Linked DNA regions of Homo sapiens: region 2 is linked to region 1. The links come from fine-mapping of genetic effects on gene expression. Tissue or cell type: whole blood. Region 1 holds a variant in brackets; the other region holds the start of a gene. All regions are shown on one strand. Distances are between the middles of the regions.

Region 1 (2,686 bases):
AACAGAAGAAATGAATATAAATATACTCAGGGTAGCCAAATCCTCTAATTCACTAAAGGATGAACCAAAGTTGTTGGCCAGATTCACATTTATGTGGGAGCCTAAACAAATTATGTTCCCTTTAACTGTTCTAGGCCTGTGGAAAAGGGAAGTGGACAACATTTATATTACAAGACAGTAATTTTATTGAAACATCTTTTTTTGTCTAAAACTATGCATGGAGATATTAATCTCTTGTTTATAAATTAGGTTAAGTCTAACATCACTATTTGAAACCAGTGTTATTTACAAAAATGAACCTCTTCTTTGCTTTATTGTTGGTTTACAGGAATAATTTTAAACCAACCTCAATCTATCTTTAAAAATCTTCCTGCCTTCAAATGCCCAGCAACCCTTATAAGGTAGGGGGCAGCCCTTTGACAGCAACATTCATCATTCACCAGGAATGTAGAACCACAAGTGAACAACAACAACAACAACAACAAGATTAAATCATTCCCAACAATTCCTATTTGCTTTTCCAAAGCATGCTATGTCTAATTCTGCCTTTCTATGCAGACAGGTGGGAGAGGGAGCCCATAGAGTATATTAATGTTAATTAAATTAACTTCCTTTAAAAGCTAACAGGATGGCTTAGTGTGGATGAGGATGAACTGCTGTGGATGACACTAGCAGATAATGAAGTAAACTTTAAACCCAGATTAGTAACATGTACTCCAGTAACTGACCAGCTCAGATAGAGACTTCTCATTTACTCTGGATCACATGTACAATATTTTACCTTCCAATTAAATATAGTGCCAAAATCTTTCAAAATAGATAGAGAATAGGCTTCTTAGAAATTCAAATAAAAATGTTAAATAATAAAAACTGGTGGCCTATTATAGAGTTTCTGACAGACTCCAATATACTGGGTACCAGAAAGTAACTCTATCTCAGATGCTAGTAAAAAGGTAAATTTTGTATATACATAAAAGACAATATTACGAGACTGTAGTGTCATTTGTCAAAACAAGAATATCTAGAA[T/C]GGAATTTTCAGTAAACACTTGGGATGAAGGGCAATCAGAATACAAGAGGAAGCAAAATCCACATAAGTTAATTCCTAATTTGAGAAATCAATAGAATCAATAAATTGATAATTACTGTCTCCATAGGTCACGAATTCCAAAGACTAGTTAGTAGTTAGTTTCTAACTAAATGATTACAGGACGTTCTGATATATGCTGTCTTCTTGTGATCAGTTTGTTCTGGCAAGACTTCAACAAGCACTTGCCCTTGAAAACAGCTCAGCGGGAGAACGATCGGAGGCAATCACTTCGTTTTATAAACTAGCCAGATAATAAGTCCCAAGATTAGAATAATCACTGACAGGACAAGCACCAGGATACACATCTTCTTGCGAGATTTTTTCTGAGGAAAGAAATATGTAAACAAGATACTCATGAAACAAGTAAAATTTGTATGTGTAAGACTCTAAGAATGCTTCATAAATCTGCCTCCTTGTAATTAAAGATTAACTCTATCCATGCAAAATTATGCACAGACTTTCCCAGAAATCTTAAGTCAGCAGCACTAGGTAGTAGTGCAAGTGTTTTTTGTTTGTTTGGTGTTTTTTTTTTTCTTGAGACAGAGTCTCACTCCGTCACCCAGGCTGGAGTGCCGTGGTGCGATCTTGGCTAACTGAAACCTCCACCTTCCAGGTTCAAGTGATTCTAATGTCTCAGCCTCCTGAGCAGCTGGAATTACAGGCGTGTGCCACTATGCCCAGCTAGTTTTTGTATTTTTAGTAGAGACGGGGTTTCACCAGTGTTGGCCAGGCTGATCTCGAACTCCTGACCTCAAGTGATCTACCTGCCTCGGCTTCCCAAAGGGCTGGGATTACAGGCGTGGGCCACCGCACCCAGCCGAGTAGTATAGGTTTCAAAGTTTTAATTCCAAGTCCCCACATACAATTTTGCAAAGGAACTATACCTGTGCTGCCAGGCATTATTTGCAATAAAATAAGTTATTTGTGCATGTGTATTTTAATAACATTTTATAATACGTATAAAACTGTTATGTTCATTGTAAAAAAAAAAATACAGCAAGCGGAGGGAGAAAAAAAAATCACCCATAGATAATACCGTCAACATTTTTGTATTTCTTTCTGATTTGTTATCTATGTATATTATTTGACATAACTGGATCACATTGTATGATGTTTGATGTTTTTCCTCACTTAATGTTTAGTATAAACATTTTTCTGTTTAAACTCTTCAGAAACATCTCTTAATTCCCATATGCAACAATGAGTGGATGTATATAATTTACTTAATTATTCCTTTACTGTTGGACACTAAATTAATCACCTAGTTTTTAAAGGAAACACTATTATTAAATACGAATTTCTTTACGAGCACTCCCAGGTAAAATACAGCTATCCCAGGAACACGGAAAACAACTGAAATGCTATTTCTTCTTTTTTTTTTTTTTAATTATACGTTAAGTTTTAGGGTACATGTGCACAATGTGCAGGTTAGTTACATATGTATACATGTGCCATGCTGGTGTGCTGCACCCACTAACTCGTCATCTAGCATTAGGTATATCTCCCAATGCTATCCCTCCCCCCACCCCACAACAGTCCCCAGAGTGTGATGTTCCCCTTCCTGTGTCCATGTGTTCTCATTGTTCAATTCCCACCTAT
Region 2 (2,686 bases), 49 kb after region 1:
TTTAAATCAAAAAAATTAGGCTAGGCACAGTGGCTCACGCCTGTAATCCCAGCACTTTGGGAGGCTAAAGTGGGAGAAGTGCTTGTGCCCAGGGGTTTGAGACCAGCCTGGCCAACATAGCAAGACTTCATCTCTACAAAAAAGAAAAATTTTTAAAAGTTTAAAAACGAAAGCAAAGTGACACTCTTTAAAATATAGAATATAATTGTAATTCAGGACTAACTAGTTCTACCTATTAACAGAGTACGCCAAGCTCACAAAACAATAATAAACAACAAGGATGATGACCACCATTCTTTCCAAGTAAAGCTGCTGCTGATCTCCTGTTTATAAGGCTCCAAGATGATTTTCAAGCACAAGAAACACCCTGTATTTGACTCATTCAGCTACAGTTTCACTCAGACCCTAATGGGGAGGAGGGAGTTTTAAGACAAGCAATAGCATTCTGAATTCCACCAACAACTCTACCATGCCTTACTTGCTATGTGGTTGTGGCTAAGTGTCTTAGCTTCCCTGTGTACCAGATTTGTTCAAGAGCAGCTAAGTAGGGAAGGAAAACAAAAGCCTCATCTGCCTGAAATCCAAAAATACACCCCAATTATTTGTTACAAAAGACAAAATAATGTAAATTGAAATGCTGTTGGTGAATTCTCTTTATTAAAATGAAGTCATCCCACCTTTCAAATACCAGTCATTGTGTCTGATTTCCGAATTCATTACAGGAAGAACTGTGTATGAAGTCACCCAAACACATGCACTCTCCACTTCCCTTAATTGAAAGTTGCTGATTTCCGAGGAGCCAGGGGCTGAGCAGAATGTAAACCTAAAGGCTAAATCAGTAAACAACCCCATCCAAACTGGTCTAAGAGGAAAGCGAGGTGGGTGGGGAGGAAGGTGGGTGACAGGAGAAACTCGGCTGACCACTGCGCCAAGTCAACGCACTCACAGCTCTCGAGGTGACACACACTCCCCTTCCCACCCTCGGGCTGTCAAGTCGGCTGTTTTGGTCCCAGCACCGTGGGGGCAGAACTCCAGAGAAGCAGCTCAAGCTTCAGCTGGGGCCGGGGACCCTCGGGCAACCCGGGCCTGACAGATTGGGGGATGGCAGCCCACCGCCCCCAGGGTGGACAGCCCGAGACAGCCCCAGGTGTGGCCTCGGCCGTAGCCCCAGCCGGGCCCTGCGTCCCGGCAGCCTCACCCAGGCCTGTCCCCGGGACAGCTCCCGCCCCCCAGCTCGGTACCCCGGCTCACTGGCTTGGCTGATCCGCTGGATGTTGCCGCTGCACGTCTGGATGATGCTGCTGAAGTCCCGGAGCTGGGGCCCCGAGGGCCCCGGGTTCCGGTACATGTCTAAGGGACCGTATGACATGACGAGGAGCTGAGACCTGCTCGCTCTACACCGCTCTCCTACCGGAAGCAGCCGCCAGCCGGGACCCGCAGGCTGACGGAGAAACTGGGAAGAGCAAGGGCGGGGAAGGAGCTAAGGCTGCGTGCGCACTAGCCCCGCCCTCACGCGGCGCGCACGCGTCCTCCCCGCCCCGGTCCAAAGTGCGCAGGCGCCGCTGGGACTGGAGCTGGGACTGGAGCTGGGACTGTAGCTTAGAGACAGGACTCCCCGAGGCTTGGGGATGCAGGGCGGGGAGATGACGTCACCTAGTTGGGGCTGAGATTGGATGAGCTTGGGTGGAGGTGTTGTTTCTCGCCAGGGCACAGTGACAAGAGGCAAGAATTTTCGATTTGCATAAAACTGTACCAGATGATCTCAGCCCTTACATCCTATTCTGTTCTGAGAATTCAGGCCCAAATATGGGAGAATTCAACGTTGAAACTCAGACCCGGAACCAAATCGTAACCCGAAATTCCTCTCTACTTCCATCCCCAGGGCTTTGGTAGTGTTTGGGGTTTCCAAACCACTTTCATTTCTCCCTCCACCCCTCTTCTAATCTAAACAATAAAATAATGTTTATTGAGCACATACTATGTGAATCCTCACCGCAATTCACTTGTTCATAAGATTTTTCACAGCAGGGGACGATGCTCTATCTATATTTTTATCATTAGAATAGATAACGGAGAGTCGGTTTTTTAAATGTTGAAGTAAAGTAATTCATCAAAGTAAGCATTATTATTTTCCCTCTTACCGATGAGAAAATTAAGACCAGCGAGGTTAGTTCGCCTTGCTGAAATTTGACTGCAAAACCCAAACGCTAAGCTGACTCTCTCCTCACCTCGCTACTTCTCTAAAATTCATTCTCGTCTAAATCTCTCCCAAATAGCTCGTTCATCTATATCCCAAGCCGGGATATCTTGGAGAACTAGATTCCTAAAATTTAAAAATCGTTCCCTTAAGTAATTTGGAATGCATGACCTCAATGTTCCCACAGAAAACTGCATTTTTGTAAGCCTATGTTAAAAGGAAAGACATAGGATTTTGGTTTGGGAGGAGATCAAGATAGTGAGAAGTGAAGGGGAACTGGCTGCGTTTCCTGTGTTCTACACCCCACCCCACCCCACCCCAGCCTGCTTTGTAGTCTTTGGAAAATGCAAAGACAGAAAGCTGCTTGCCTGGATGAAAGGAGACCCAAAGTGAATGAGCCTGTATATGGCCTTAGGATTTTTTCTTTATTTTATTTTTTTTGAGACAGGGTCCCGCTCTGTCACGCAGGTTGGAGTGCAGTGGCGCGAT

The links. PIP is the estimated chance that this variant, and not a neighbour inherited with it, causes the effect.
Region 2: STX12 starts here. The variant in region 1 is fine-mapped to the expression of STX12 in whole blood (INTERVAL, PIP above 0.99).

What each region holds. Positions count from the first base shown.
Region 1 is chr1:27,820,955-27,823,640 of GRCh38, reverse strand. STX12 (syntaxin 12) reads right to left here. Exons shown (of 9, transcript NM_177424.3): 9 at 1-1,410. The coding sequence ends at 1,312. Among named protein-coding and RNA genes, the nearest start is that of PPP1R8, 8.5 kb to the left of the region's middle. The variant T/C (reference allele first, on the strand shown) is at 1,028.
Region 2 is chr1:27,771,991-27,774,676 of GRCh38, reverse strand. It overlaps STX12 (syntaxin 12), which reads right to left and starts at 1,458. Exons shown (of 9, transcript NM_177424.3): 1 at 1,252-1,458. The coding sequence starts at 1,369. RefSeq lists enhancers at 621-1,121, 1,319-1,468, 1,122-1,622, 1,589-1,738 and a silencer at 999-1,208.